Linked DNA regions of Homo sapiens: region 2 is linked to region 1. A link means that fine-mapping ties the variant in region 1 to the expression of a gene that starts in the linked region. Tissue or cell type: monocytes after R848. Region 1 holds a variant in brackets; the other region holds the start of a gene. All regions are shown on one strand. Distances are from middle to middle.

Evidence for each region. PIP is the estimated chance that this variant, and not a neighbour inherited with it, causes the effect.
Region 2: RFC1 starts here. The variant in region 1 is fine-mapped to the expression of RFC1 in monocytes after R848 (Quach 2016, PIP 0.95). The same link has a PIP of 0.9 or more in monocytes after LPS.

Annotation. Positions count from the first base shown.
Region 1 is chr4:39,313,290-39,321,475 of GRCh38, forward strand. RFC1 (replication factor C subunit 1) reads right to left here. Exons shown (of 25, transcript NM_002913.5): 8 at 7,998-8,085; 9 at 7,094-7,380; 10 at 3,626-3,733. Among named protein-coding and RNA genes, the nearest start is that of RFC1, 49 kb to the right of the region's middle. The variant C/A (reference allele first, on the strand shown) is at 3,164.
Region 2 is chr4:39,363,188-39,371,373 of GRCh38, forward strand. It overlaps RFC1 (replication factor C subunit 1), which reads right to left and starts at 3,175. Exons shown (of 25, transcript NM_002913.5): 1 at 3,052-3,175. The coding sequence starts at 3,054. RefSeq lists an enhancer at 3,097-3,216.

The sequences.
Region 1 (8,186 bases):
GTAGAAACTCTTGCTATTCAGGAAACTGCTTGTTCTTAAGAACTTTCCCAACAAGAATTTAATAGAAGCAGGTATACTCCTATCATTTTGATGTTTCTGTTAATGTTTCGAAACAATGTACTTTAAAATCAGAATCACTTCTTATCATTTTCAAATACTTCTGATGCTTTTCACCACATTAGTGATCAGAAATGAGGTCTAATTCCCCAATCCCTGCCCGCAAGAGCTAAGTAGGATCTTAACTGTAAGTTGAAGGGAGTTTTGCCCGAACTCATGGATTGTACAAGAACAAACTGCTGCTGGGTTGGATGGTCTGCCAATGGATTGTGGTGTGGCATATCTGAAGGCTACTGAATGCAACTTATAATGCTTAATAAAAAATTTTTACTGTTTTATGGGAAAAAAGGGAAAAAAGGCAACTCTTGCTATTGTTAAAAAGGGAAAGTTTTGATTCTAAAAAGCTAAGCAAGTGTGAGCTCGTGCCTTCCTCTCTGCTCATTACTCTAGGATAGTAAATCTAGCAATCTTCTAGTAACTTAAAGGCAAGATCGTATTATCTCTGGATTGGAAAGATAACTCTCATAATGTATAATATAAGAGATACTTGCCAAAGAGAGCTGGATGGAAAAGACATTAAATCTTAATTGGAACTATGTTGAGTTATATATTTTTGCAATGGTTCAATAAAATTATACAACCAAACAAAATGAAAATTATACATGACATTCCAAGTTACTTATTACTCTTTTAATAGAGAATTGAGATTAATAAACTTAAAATGGGCTTGAAAAGCAGCAGCCAACCAAAATTCAAAGACTGCCTCCATGTAAGTTCAATCCTTCACCATTCAGATGAAGAATCTTTCTCGGAAGACAAAAAGAAACAGCTATGAAGGTGCTTGGAAAGAAAAGGTTTGACTAACAATATCTCAGGGTCCCTTGAAGCCTTTATGGGTTCTTGGATTGAAATGATCTACTGTAACACTACAGGAACTTAACTACTTCTGAACAAACTCAAAACAACCCTGGAAAAATTGCACATGCAAGCCCCTATATCCCATATCCCAAACATCTATTATCTCCCAAATTATCACCCACTATGGCTCTGATTATCTTTTTACTTATCCAATCTTAGCACTTCTAGCCTCCCTATCAAACTCTTCTATTCTAGAATTTGGCTAAGCTCTTACTCCAGGAGCAGCCAGCCACCCCTAGTATCCTCAACCTCTTCTCCAACATTCCCTCCATAGCCTTGCCTTCACTGAAACCTGTCTGTCCCCTCAGGGCACCACTTTGACTGAAGTCCTCTCAAGCAGAACTTGTTTGGTCTCTCATACCCATGTACAGGAGGCAAGACTGGCATCTTCCTGCAGGCTCCCATAAAACCCATAAGCCCCTTAAGGCCGACCTTCTCGCTCCCCACTCCGGTCCCAGCTACACCATCTCTCCCTCTCTTTATTAGGGGAGCTATTAATCTCTATATGTACTTATATATACCAAGCAAACTGAAAATTAAATTTATACATATATTGTATACTTATCCCCTCCCCTCCTGCCTTCTTAGAAATCTCATGCTACAATTGATTCTCCTTCTCCTGCTGGTATAACTTCCATCTCTCCCTTTCTGGTAGGATCTATCCCATTAGCAAAACGCATGCTTTAAATATCTCCTACCATAAAAATACTTAAATCTCCCCCTAAATTCCACTTTCCATTCTAGCTAGAAGTCACTTCCCCTTCTAGTCCTTCTAGCTAGAAGTCCTCCCACTTCTTTCTCCTTCACAGCCAAACTTATCAAAAATATCTACTTTTGCTGTCTCCATTTTGTCTCCTCACACTCACTCTTCCACCCGCTTCCATCAGGCTCTGCCTCCACTGTCCTTAGCTCTTGCTAAGGCCACTAAGGATCATTAATTCATGTTACTAAATGGAACAATTTCCGGTCTTCCCTTACCTGGAATCTTAACAGCATGACAGACTTAACTACTCAATCATTTTTGAAATACTCTCTCTTCCCTTTGCTTCTGTGATCCCACGCTTATCAAACTTCTCTCCCATATTTGTAGCTGCTACTTCTCAGTTTCCTTTTGGTTTCCACCCTCTTCTACTTCACAAAGAAGCAGGGGCCAAGGCCCTCTTCTCTTCTTGTTCTGTACTAGTTTACCAGATGCTATTAATCCCTTCATGCCAAGAATGCCCAAGTTTGTCCATCTAGTTCTGACTTCTGTTCTAAGCTCCAGTCCCACATATCTGCTTGTCTACTCAGCATCTCCATGTGGACATCTCACATAACCCTAAAGCACAGTGTGGCCAACAACGAACTCATTATCATCTCCCCAAACTAGCCCTGCCACCAATCGCATGATCCACCAAGCTGCTCATGCCAATAACAAGATCATCCCCAATACTCTTTCTTCTCACTTTCCACTTCAATTATCACCAAGTCCCATAGATTTTGCCTCTTCTAGTGAAACCTCTCCACTTTTCGACATTTTCACTGCTCCCCCAGACCAGTCCCTATCACTTCTCACCATCTCTCCTGATGATCTCTGTGTAGCTATTTCTGCCCCATCCACAGCACTTGGTACATCAGCAGCCAGAGCGATCTTTCAGAAATTCAAATCTGGTCATGTTATCCCTCCACTTTAAAATTCCTTCTCGGCCGGGCCCAGTGGCTCACGCCTGTAATCCCAGCACTTTGGAAGGCCAAGGCAGGCAGATCACCTGAGGTCGAGAGTTCGAGGCCAGCCTGACCAACATGGAGAAACCCCATCTCTACTAAAAATACAAAATTAGCCAGGCATGGTGGCGCACGCCTGTAATCCCAGCAACTCCAGAGGCTGAGGCAGGAGAATCGCTTGAACCCAAGAGGTGGAGGTTGCCGTGAGCTGAGATTGCGCCACTGCACTCCAGCCTGGGCAACAGGAGCGAAAACTCCATTTCAAAAACACAAAATAAAAATTCCTTCTCTTAGACAAAAGTCTTAAACATTAGGCCCTGCAAGATGTGATCCTATTAACCTCTTTGGCCATTCTCATCCCTTGGTCACTATGCTCCAACCATAATTTTTCTTTCAGTTCCTCAAACATACCATGCAAGAACCTTCCCCCTGCAGGAACATCATACATTCTGGCCCCTCTGCCCAGACCACCACGCCATCACAA[C/A]CCCTTCACACCTGTTGAATCCCTTTCATTCTTCAAGTCTCCATTTAAATGTCACATTCTACATGCCCCACCAAGGACCAGGTTCCTCTGTTATACTACCTAAGGGCATCTTAGATTTTTCCCTCATAGCACATATCCCAATTATAATTAAATTATTTATTTAATGTCTCTTTCTTTAGGCTATAAGTGCCATGCAAGCAAAAACATTAGTTTTGTCACTGGTATAGTCTCAAAGCTCAGCCTTTCTAGGGCTACTTGTTATTTAAAGGGAAATTTTTCTAAGTATCAAGCAGTGATTCATAACATGAATAAACATCCCTAATTCTTGAAGACAGTAACTGAAGCTTTTCTGTTGCTCATTTTTAATTATTAATCCTCTGCTGCTATAATCATCGTGAATACATACATGGACCCATACGGCAGAGGCCCTCACAGAATGGCATGCCCTCTCAGTACTCTTACCTTTGGTATTTCTTTGGAGCCCAGAGCCTTGGGACCTTCTCGATTTAAGTAGCTTCGATAAGCTTGATAATTAGTGCGTTTCTTTTCAGAATCTTCAGGACTTACAGACTTTGGGAACAGGGAAAGGAAAATGAACAAAGTCATACAGAATTCATGCAAAATTTAAAATACATATCTAGAAATAAACATTATTTTTATTGTGTCACTTCTGTGTCTGGCTGTGAAATTAACAGTTTTAGCTACACAAGTACTTCCTAACTTACAGACAACTGACTTACGAACATCCCTGCATCAGCGCTTCTCAAAACTTTCCACTCTCTAAAGCCACACACCTCAGGGCAGATTATGGGAATAAGCCAAGTTGCCAGCTCCAAGCAAAGAAATGCAAAAAGTGTTTTACTTTAGGAATTCACCTGAATTTTAAATTATATTTCATGATATATCCATATATCCATGTTTAACGGGAAAATACATTTTTTCCCCAAGTAAACCTGATCGCCCGAGAAGATATTCTGTGTTAATCCTATGACCTTCCATGCCCCTAAAGCACCAGCCTGCATCCCTAAGGACATAAGCATTCCAGTAGGAGAATCTAAACAGTCAGCTCAAAGAAGGTACAAGCTTTACTCCAAAGAGAAGACACGTTCTCTATGCTATTTCATCTCCTCCCATTCTACTTCTCTCGGGGAATTTACCATAGGTATATCTCAGAAAATCCTGGGGAAACTTTTCAAACTATGCATCCCTAGATCCACCTCCAAGTTTCTCTTTCGGAGATATGGGGTATGGCTAGAATGTGTTTATGTGGGGGAAAAATATCTTAGATAGCTCTCATTTAAGAACCACTATCAGGTGTTTGTTATTTTTCCACTTCCTATTTTAACATTATTTTTAACTTGTAAGCAATCCCAAATCCTTTTGAGAGTAGACAAAATAGTAACTTCTATACAAAGAAATGGCGGCCGGCTGCAGTAGCTCACGCCTGTGGTCCCAGCACTTTGGGAGGCCGAGGTGGGTGGATCACGAGGTCAGGAGATCGAGACCATCCTGGCTAACACAGTGAAACGCCGTCTCTACTAAAAAAATACAAAAACTAGCCAGGCTTGGTGGCGGGCGCCTGCAGTCCCAGCTGCTCGGGAGGCTGAGGCAGGAGAATGGCGTGAACCCAGGAGGCGGAGCTTGCAGTGAGCTGAGATCGCGCCACTGCACTCCAGCCTGGGTGACAGAGCGAGACTCCGTCTCAAAAAAAAAAAAGGAATGGCTTAACCAATAAAATAGTTCAGCTGGTTTGGCTAAGAGGTCGATAAGCCATTAACAGGCTGGTCCTAGAATCTAACCCTACTTTCTAACAATGGTTCTCAAATGTTGGTGTGTGTTCATATCATATGAGGAGCTTATTAAAATACAGCTGCCCACACCACATTCCCTGGGAAACTCCATTTTTTTAACAAGTTTCACAAGAGAGTCCAGTGCATACCAACATGGAAAAACGATTAATTTACGACACTCATTCTATGAAAAGAATTCTGAATGGTAAACAGCGTATACAATAACTTTGAAGGACACCCACTTTATGAAGTCAGAATTATTTGACCAAGACCAACTAAATGTATTAAATAGACTTTATTTGACGTTTCCAACCAAAACTGCTTAAGTAAAAGTTTTGAGTTATTTCTATTCTAACTTTAAAAAGTACAGTGAAGAGTATCATTTAAAGATTTCCTCTTTCTTCATAAAAACAGACTGCCTCTGTAAATGGAACATGTTTTAGTGTGCCTGAAGAAAACCATTCATTTACCAGATAAGCATTTAGTGCAGAAAAAATCTGAGATCAAAAAGTTAATTGCTCCTTTAAGCGTATTTATAAGCATTGTCCACAAACAAAAGCATTCTGAAATCATCACCATTTCACTGTTCTGCACTAAAATATAATGGTGATGACCAGTTAAAATAGGTGATATTCTGCTTTTAATCCTAAGTGCCTAAGAGGCATGAATGAATAGTGGTTTCTCATTATGAATCTAAAGTAGTTCCAAATTGGAGATTCAGAGACCGTTCGCTTCTCAAATATATTTCCTAGCAAAATTTTTCAAAGATATTCATTATCTCATCATTTTTTCCTTTAAAAATAATTTCAGTATCGCAACACTGTTGTACAAGAATAAAAAAGAGTAAATTTAGGACTAAGCCAAATAACAATCATTTTAATAATAATAGTTAAGATGGCACTTATTAGGTCCCAGGCACTGCTCTAAGTGCTTTTACATATGAAGTCATTAGGTACTATTATTATTATTCCTATTTTACAAACAGCACCAAAGCACAGACAGGGGAAGTGACCAAACCTGCTCAGAGTCCCAGAGCCTGAAACTGGCTCCAGAGCCTGTGTGTGGAGCCACTATGTTATACTGCTTCAGAGGACCTGAGTTCAAGGCTGGCCCTGCCACTTACCAGGTGGATGATCTTAGAATAGTTAAACTCTTTCAGCCTGTTTCCTCGTCTTTAAAAGTTGAATAATAAAAATAAATATCTCACAGGGTTGTTGTGAAAATTATATGAGCTACCACATGTAAAGTATTCGCACAGTATCTGACACACAATAACAATAAATATGGGCTTACTTAGCTATATTAATACTCCATATCCTACAACAGCTTCTAAATAAGATATCTTAAAAATATTATAATGACTTATGATCGTTAGAAATAAAACTTGAAAACAAACCCAGACTAACACATAGCACCAAAATATATACAGCAGTCCCCCTTTATCCGAGGAGGGTATGTTCCAAGACCACCCCAGTAGGTGCCTGAAACCACAGACAGTACCAAACTATATATATACTTACATGTACTGTTTTTTCTATCTAATAACCAAGCCGGCTACCAAGTGACTAACGGGTGGGTAGTGTATCCAGCATGGTTATGCTGGACAAAGAGATGATTCACATCCTGGGTGAGATAAAGCAGGTTGGCCAGAGAGATTTCATCATGTTACTCAGAAGAGTACCCAATTTAAACCTTATTAATTGTTCATTCCTGGAATTTTCCATTTAATACTTTCAGAACATGATTAACCACAAGTAACTGAAACTTCAGAAGGCAAAACCATGGATAAGGGGGAATACTGTACTCCCTAGAAAGTTCCTACCAAGGCCGGGCGCGGTGGCTCACACCTGTAATCCCAGCACTTTGGGAGGCCAAGGTGGGCAGATCACCTGAGGTCGGGAGTTCAAGACCAGCCTGACCAACATGGAGAAACCCCGTCTCTACTAAAAATACAAAATTAGCCAGGCATGGTGGCACATGCCTGTAATCCCAGCTACTTGGGAGGCTGAGGCAGGTGAGTTGCTTGAACCTGGGAGGCAGAGGTTGCAGTGAGCCGAGATTGTGCCACTGCACTCCAACCTCAGCAACAAGAGCAAAACTCCATCTCAAAAAAAAAAAAAAAAAAAAACAAAGTTCTTACCTCTTTTTTAGCTGGAGAACTTTTGGTTTTCTTAGGAGTTTTTGTCTCTCCTTTCAATTTAATGGCATTTTCTTTTCTTTTTGAGGCCACAGGCTCTATTTCTTTATAAGAGCTCTCTTCTTTTCTTTTCATAATTGCCAGCTTAGAACTGGCCTTGGGAGAAGAGACTTCTCCTATTTTGTCAGCTGATGACTTGGAATGTTGCTGAGATTCTTTTGAACTTTCATATTTACTTTGCTTCCTAGGACTGTAGCTCTTTCTTTCATCTGAAACTTGTGCTGTTTTTACTAGGAAGAAAGAAAAGATTATGGTTGTTGTTTTTGGAAAATGATAATCTATATCAACTTTTCTTTCATTTTTCAACTGAGTAATCTTAGCACAGAATATACCCTGAAGGCCCAAAGTCCTAAAGTGTCAAGACCATCTGTTTATAGTAAATCTATAAATACATTTACTTATAGGACTAAGATCATCTAGACTAGCAGATGATTTGCTATCAGAACCACTGAAGAATAAAACCTACAGGCAATAAGCAAGAGAGCTGAAGATGACCTGGCCAACTATGAGTCAACTCTGAGACTACCTCTGACATGAAAAGCTCAAAACATCTAGGTTCTTCATCTTTATATATTGAAATCCACATATTGCACTATACTTGGAAATTAACAAGAAGCCAGGAGTTTTAACACAATTCTCACAGTAATCATAGAGCAGATGGGCATTCTGTACCAGCTAGCATCCAAAGAGCTTTCAAAGTTTCTAAGTTCAATATGCTCTAATAGTCCTGTGAAATAATGTCTACCTAACAATACATAATTACTGAATAGGATACTTAAACAAGATTATCATGAATTTACTTCCATGAAGACAAGTGCTCCATCTTACTTTTTTCTGCTAGTATTACCTTTATGAGGATATTTATGTTTTTCTGCTTTACTTAAATTGGCTTGGACAGATGAAAACGTTTCTCCCGCTTCTGTGTCCTTTCGAGCCTAAACAAATTTTAAAAGTGTCAAATGTGACAAATAATAGAAAAACTATTACCATAAAATCTGTTGTTAAAATCCATCAAAATTTTAAGGGTCACCTTTCA
Region 2 (8,186 bases), 50 kb after region 1:
GTTTTATTCACGTTTTGTGCAAACAATTAAATCTCAGTGAAATTCAAATTGTCTACATGGCTTCTTTATTTCTTTTATTTTTAATTTTCTTTCTATTTATTTACGTGGTTCAAATTTCGAAAGGGTAAAAAGTCCCCCTCTTATCCTGCCTCTCAGACACATATTTCCCATCTCTGGAGGCAACAAATGTTATCAGTTGGTTCCTTCTGTATCTTTCCAGAGAAATTTTATATTTTGGCAATTGTTTCATATCAGAGTATAAAGTTTTCTCATTTTTATAAAGGTTGCACAGTATTCCATTGTGTGAATACACGTACTTTATTTCTTTATTGATAACTTTTAATTGGAATTTTTGTTTTCAATGCAGCTCCCAGGGCAAGAGCTGTCTATGGATGGGCTTCAGAAGATAAGTGAATAGGCCAGGCACAGTGGTTCATGCCTGTAATCCCGGCACTTTAAGAGGCTGAGGCAGGTGGATCAACTTGAGGCCAGGAGTTCAAGACCAGCCTGGCCAACATGGTGAAACTTCATCTCTACTAAAAATAAAAAAATAAAATAGCTGGACATGGTGGCACACACCTGTATTCCCAGCTACCAGGCAGGCTGAGGCACAAGAATCGCTTAAACCTGGTAGGCAGAGGTTGCAGTGAGCCAAGACTGCACACTGCACTCCAGCCTGGGCAAAACAGCAAGACTCTCAAAAAAAAAAAAAAAAGAAGAAGAAGAAGAAGATGATAAGTGAACAGGCCAGGCACAGTGGCTCATGCCTGTAATCTCAATGCTTTGGGAGGCCAGGGTGGAAGGATCGCTTGTACCCCGGAATTAGAGATGGCAGTGAGCTATCATCACACCACTGCACTCCAGCCTGGGCAACAGAGCAAGACCTTGCCTTTAAAAAAAAAAAAAAAAAAAAAAGAAGAAGAAGATAGGTCAATCCCTTAAAATGGTGTGTATATGCCCATATGCATTTCTCTGGGCAGAAAATTTGCATATCATTCACTGTATTTATCAAAGGAAACTGTAACTGAAACAAAGATTGAGAACTACTGTCCTTCATACCCAACGACACAGTCTGAGGGAAAAAAAAAAAAAAGAACTACTGTCTTATAACTTTGCACAAGTGTTCAATAAACATTTGTTGAATCAATTTTAGTCTAGGGTTTTGCTAATTGTTGCACTAGAGACTGGAGGGCTAAATTAAATATCAGTATAATACAAAATTCTTATCTACCTCATAGGATGTTTACCCACTAACAACAAAACTGACCAATTTGACCTATTTCTTTTCTGAGAAGAGGTCTATTTTTTATCTGCACCATGAACAGGAGTACTAAAGAAAGAAAAGAACCAAAAGTAAAAGCACCTGAATGATCAAAAGTTGACCACACAAGCTATGTTCACCATAAATGACAGAGGAATCTACCATGCCTCTTAAAATCTATGTAACTTTCCATAGAGTCCTTTCTGAGAAAATAGATCACTGGTAGCTGTGTAGTTGCCTAACATGCCAGGCACCAGAACCAGAACGGAAGCTTTACCTATACATCTTGCTTAATCCCCAAAACAATCACTATGGCAGCTATTATTTTCCCCTCTTTTACAGATAAGGAAACAGAGGCTTAAAGAGATTAAACTTAAGCTATTTACTTGCCCAAGACCACGTAACTATTAAACTAGACTATACTAACATAGTAATATAACTATAAATTAATATATAAACCATTAAACTAAAATATTACCACGTTCTTCATCTTCAAGACTCCAAGTCTCAAGCTTCCAAAATACCACAGTGCTTTGGCCTCCAAAATGTAATGATGATCATTATAGGGAAGTAGTATAACATGGTGGTCAGAAACACCAAGATTCTAATTCTAGTTCAACCACCTACTAGTTATATGATACACTGTTTAAATTCCAAAAAGGTGCTTGCACCATCTGTAAAACTGCATCGATGTGGGTTGAAATGAAAAAAAAAAAAAAAAAAAAAAACCATGGAAAACCAACAGTTCACATATTGACCTAAAGAAGATGCTTGGTACAAGGTAGCTACTATCATTACTGTTGCCCTTTTTTGAGAAGAAACACAAAGGCCTGCAACGTTTCCCAGTGTGGCATAAAATTTTCACCGCCCCCCCCCAGAATGTTGTCACTGTGACACGTTGACCAATGATTGAAAAAAATTATATCGGATTGTTAAGTATCTTCTAGCTTAATGAACATTTTAAATGGTCCTTTAAAAATATTTCAAACACAGAGCCATATCCATTGCCATACCATCAGGAATGTCTGCTTTGCTGGCTGCATAATCATTTCACTTTCAATTTGTTTGAACATTTTATCCAGAATTATGCAGTGAGGCTTGGGTTTTTTTCAGATTTTAAACATCAGGTGGTAAGAGGATGACAGCTGTCAAATGTCTTGCATCTGTTTCTATTCGCTGTACTTCTTTTTCCTAGTAAGCCATGTTATCCTTTTGACTCCTATGAACTCATCTAAACAAAATAAAATATCCTCTCCATGCCCTCGGTCTCAACACCGCTCAGGTGATCGTTAATGACGAGCGGAGATGAGACGAGCTGAGCTGTTAATGATAAAAGTTTAAGGCCCTACACAACATATTCCCTAAGAAAGAAAAGTTTGTTACATTCTTCTCCCTCGTGACCCAAAGCTTGAAATCCACGCTTTAGGCAGTACTCAAACTGAGGTTCGGGCAACGCCGAACAAGAAAATAACTTTACCAATGCGTCCCAAAACCACCATCCTTCCTCTCTTCCTTTCTCCCTTCCCCCAAGAGTGGGGGGCGGGGGGAAAGTGCAAGTACACGTAGCAACAAAATCCCTGCGCGCTGGCTGCCGCCCAGAGCCAGAGCCCGCGATGCAATGAAAGTTTTGCGTCCAGTGCCCGGTGTGCGGCCCCTTCTCTGCCTTTGCTAGCCTCCGGAACCACCCACCGCCATCCTCCCCCACCCTGCATACCAGGAGTGCCCGGTCCACACCAGGCCTGCAAAGCCCCCCCAGACCCCGAGCCGCACGGCCTCCCCCAGCGGCTCACCATCGCAGCCCCAGGATGAAGGCGCTGGCTGGCTGGCGGGTGGGCCGGTTGAGGAATCTGTTATCGAGGCTCAGGATCCATTCGCGCCAACAACTTCTCCCGCGAAGTGCAAGAAGGCGAAGACAGTGGCGCGCGGTGATGACGTCAGGAGGCGCGAGCTTTGCTTCCGTCCCGCCCAGAGGCGGGAGGTGCGACGCCTGCCCAGGTGCTGCCCCGAGGGCAGGCGGGCCGCTGACATCGAGAGGAACCACGGTGCTTTGGTGTGAGCTCGGTTTTTGGCGGGGGCGCTAAAGTAGGGGGATCCGATATTGGTTTCCTTGGCAGGCGGGGTACCCAAGTACCTCCCGGTTACACGTCTGGACAATGCACTTCCCTATAGTAACTTTGAAAAGTTTTTACTACCAACTTTAGTAAGATAAATGTTTTAGCTGTGCGTTTTACATATTATGTATAAATATCTATTCTGTAATAAGGTTTCATCAAGAGGCCGGACGCGGTGGCTCACCCCTCTAATCCCAGCACTTTGGGAGGCCGAGGCGGGTGGGTCACCTGAGGTCAGGAGTTCGAGACCACCTGACCAATGTGGTGAAACCCCGTCTCTACTAAAAATACAAAAATTAGCCAGGGGGTGGTGACGTGTGCCTGTAGTCCCAGCTACTCGGGAGACTGAGACAGGAGAATTGCTTGAACCCAGGAGGCAGTGGTGCAGTGAGCCGAGATCGAGCTACTGCCCTTTAGCCTGGGCGACAGAGCGAAACTCCGCCTCAAAAAAAAGAAAAGATACCGAAAGCTTTGGGGTAAACCAGTTGTATATGAATAGATTAGCAATTGAATCACGGAATACAATGAAACATTTGCGTACGATTTCAAGAGAAAGATTAGACCATAAAGAGTTCAATGGAGAAAGCAGTATCTCCAGCTTTGGCTCTAGCTACACTTTTGAAATTCTCACCCATCCACCCCCTGTTGGGTCTTGCGCTTTATGACACCAACATTTCTATGGCGAAAGATAGAACAGCCTGGAATACAACAGAGGCTGAGCATTGACAGCTTGTATTTATTAAACGCCTATTGTTGTACGTGCAGCTCTGGACTAGCCTAGCTCATTTTATCCCCATGATGACACTGACTACTCTTATCCCGAATTTACAGACAGACTGTTACTTATTAACAGGGCCTCACTGCACTGTTCCCTCTGAAGCCAGGATGCTAGGTCTCCAGCCCCACCACCTGCTATTTATGTGACCAAGGGCAAGTTACTGTGCCTCGGTTTTGTCTTAGCAGACATATCACACAAATTTTTGCCCATAATTTTAGAGGACCTACACCAATTTATAATGTTCATTGTGTTATAAATCAATAAATGAGTAAATAAGACATAAAAAGTTGTACGTGTCTTTTATATTACATTCCTCTTAACTTTTGCTTTTTTTTTTTTTTGGCATTTGAAGCCTTCCTTGAGTTTAAATGAGACTTAAGTCAGGAGACTGTAACTTCTTTGTGAGATTGTTTTCTTTAGGAATATTTATTTACATGAAAATACTCTATCTCAGAAATATACCAGATCTAAAATGACTGCATATGCTTTGAAACTCCTCCCTTGAACCTGGACTGGCCTATGACTGATTTGATCAAAGAATACAATGGAAGTGATACTATGCCAACTCCAGACCTAAGCTTTAAGAAGACTGGCAGCTCCTGTCTTGCTCTCTTGGAGCACCATGTAAAGCCAGGGAGGTGGTCATCTGAGACCAGCCTTATAGCCATCTCCACCAGGCACCATGCATGTAAATGAAGCCATCTCAGATCCCATCCAGCAACTGATGGAATTTCACTAGCTTTGTTGACCCCATTCAACACCTGGGAGAGCAGAAAAATCACTCAGTCAAGGCCTGTCCAAATTTCCTGACCCACAGTAGCGTGAACATAATTAAATGATTGCTCTGTTAAGGTAATAAGTATTGGAGTGGTTTCTTATAAAGGAATAGATATCCAGAATGGAAATATTTTTGAAGACCCAAAATAGGACTGAGCATGGTGGCACATGCCTATAATCCCAGCACTTTGAGAGGCCTTGTCTCAGGAAAAAAAAACAAAAACAAAAAAAAAGTGAAACCAATCAGAAAAGATTTCCCTGCTGATCCATGCCTTTTTGTTAGCAGAATAATGGCATGGAAAGAAATTCACTCCTTGAAAACAGTATGGATATAAGCTTTTGCCTATCACAGCAAGTTTACATTTATGGATGCCTGCTGCATTAGCACATGCCGGCACTGTTATTCCATCCTTCCCATCCTTAATTCCTTTATGGGCTAGCTCATCAGCCATAGTTAGTATCTATCTGGGGCAAATAACACCAAAACAGTGATGTTTCAGCAATCTTGTAGACTTGGTCTAGTGTCAGATTTTCATGAGTGAAAATATTGGCAAATTCATCAACACATTTCTCCACTGCTTTGTGATCAGCAGATGCTTTATTGCCACAGATTTTTTAAAAATGTAACACCCTGTCTTTTCTTAAATTTATGCAACCAGCCAGTTGAATATGCACAATTCCCTTCAATTTTTAGTTCATTGCAATAGATCTTTGTTTCATGATCAGCATACCATCACGTGGCATGTGTTCACTATGATGCTTATGAATTTATGCTTTCAATACATGATTGAGATTTTCTTTTTTAGCTTTACGTAGTTTTTTTTGGGGGGGGGGTTGTTTTGTTTTTTGTTTTTGAGACGGAGTCTTGCTCTGTCACCCAGGCTGGAGTGCAGTGGCGCCATCTCGGCTCACTGCAACCTCCGCCTCCCAGGTTCAAGCGATTCTTCTGCCTCAGCCTCCTGAGTAGCTGAGATTACAGTTGTGCACCACCACATTTGGCTATTTTTTGTATTCTTAGTAGAGACGGGGTTTCACCATCTTGGTGAGGCTGGTCTCGAACTCCTGACCTCGTGATCTACCCATCTCGGCCTCCCAAAGTGCTGGGAGGGTTTTTTTGGTTTTGTTTTTTTACTTTTCATTAACTTCTGTTCATCACTTTCAGCATAAACCTTCAACAGTTTTTCCTTCTGTTTCTTCAAATCATATATGGTGGTCATTCCAATCCCATACTCTTTTGTAAGATTTTCACACTTATACTGCTGTCCAACTTCTCTAAGGTTGACTTTCTGTGCCACAGATAAACATAAATGCTTCCTCTTTTTCTTATCACTGTTACCCAAAGGGGTATCTGCAGGCCTTTTCGACATTTTCAGCAATATCTGTATACCACAAAGCAGAGAATAATCAAAAAACCGCAGAAGGCCAGGCACAGTGGCTCATGCCTGTAATCCCAACACTTTGGGAGGACAAGGAAGGAGTATTGCTTGAGACCAGGAGTTCGAGGCCAGGAGTTCAAGACCAGCCTGGGCGACAGAGCAAGATGCTGTCCCAAAAACAAAACAAAACAAAAACCACTGTAAACAATCTGAATGTTAACTGTAAAGAAAATGGATAAATTGAAATATATTCATACAACAATAAAAATCAATGAAATACAGATCATACATCATACAACACTACAGATCAGTCTTGTATACTTTTTTTTTTTTTTTTTTTTGAGATGGAGGCTTGCTCTGTCACCCAGGCTGGGATACATTGGCGAAATCTCAGCTCACTGCAACCTCTGCCTGCCAGGTTCAAGCAATTCTCCTGCTTCAGCCTTCCAAGTAGCTGGGATTACAGGCATCCACCACCATGCCTGGCTAATTTTTGTACTTTTAGTAAAGACAGGGTTTCATCATGTTGGTCAAGCTGGTCTCTAACTCCTGACCTCAAATGATCCACCCACCTCGGCCTCCCAAAGTGGTAGGATTACAGGTGTGAGCCACTGCACCTGGCCCAGTCTTATATACTGATATGGTTTGGCTCTGTGTCCCCACCCAAAACTCATCTTCTAGCTCCCATAATTCCCATTGTTGTGGGAGGGACCCAGTGGGATAGGAGATAATTGAATCATGATGGTGCATCTTTCCTATGCTGTTCTCATGATAGTGAATGGGTCTCATGAGATCTGATGGTTTTAAAAACGGGAGTTTCTCTGCACAAGCTCTCTCTTTGCCTGCTGCCATCCACATAAGATGTGACTTGCTCCTCCTTGCCTTACACTATGATTATGAGGCCTCCCCAGCCATGTGGAACCGTAAGTCCAATAAATGTCTTTATTTTGTAAATTGCCCAGTCTTGGGTATGTCTTTATCAGCAGCGTGAAAATGGACTAATACAGTAAATTAATACCAGCAGAGTGGGGCATTGCTAAAAAGATACTCGAAAATGTGGAAGCAACTTGGGAACTGGGTAACAGGCAGAGGTTGGAACAGTTTGGAGGGCTCAGAAGAAGATAGGAAAATGTAGGAAAATTTGGAACTTCCTAGAGACTTTTTGAATGGCTTTGACAAAAATGCTGATAGTGATATGAACAATAAGGTCCAGGCTGAGGTGGTCTCAGATGGAGATGAGGAACTTGTTGGGAACTGGAGCAAAGATGACTCTTGTTATGTTTTAGCAGAGACTTGCAGCACTTTGCCCCTGCCCTAGAGATCTGTGGAACTTTGAACTTGAGAGAGATGATTTAGGGTATATGGTGGAAGAAATTTCTAAGGAGCAAAGCATTCAAGAGTTGACTTCGGTGCTGTTAAAGGCATTCAGTTTCAAATGGGAAGCAGAGCATAAAAGTTTGGAAAATTTGCAGCCTGAAAATGCAGTGGAAAACAAAATCCTATTTTTGAGGAGAAATTCAAGCCGGCTGCAGGAATGTGCATAAGCAACCAGGAGTCGAATGTTAATCACTAAGACAATGGACAAAATGTCTCCAGGGAATGTCAGAGACCTTTGCAGCAGCCCCTCCCATCACAGGCCCAGGGAGGAAAAAGTGGTTTCATGAGCCAGGCCCAGGGTCCCCGTGCTGTGTGCAGCCTAGGGACTTGGTGCCCTATGTCCCAGCCACTCCAGCCGTGGCTGAAAGGGGCCAATGTAGAGCTTGGGCTGTGGCTTCAGAGGGTGCAAGCCTCAAGTCTTGGCAGCTTCCACGTAGCATTGAGCCTGCAAGTGCACAGAAGTCAAGAATTGAGGTTTGGGAACCTCTGCCTAGATTTCTGAAGAT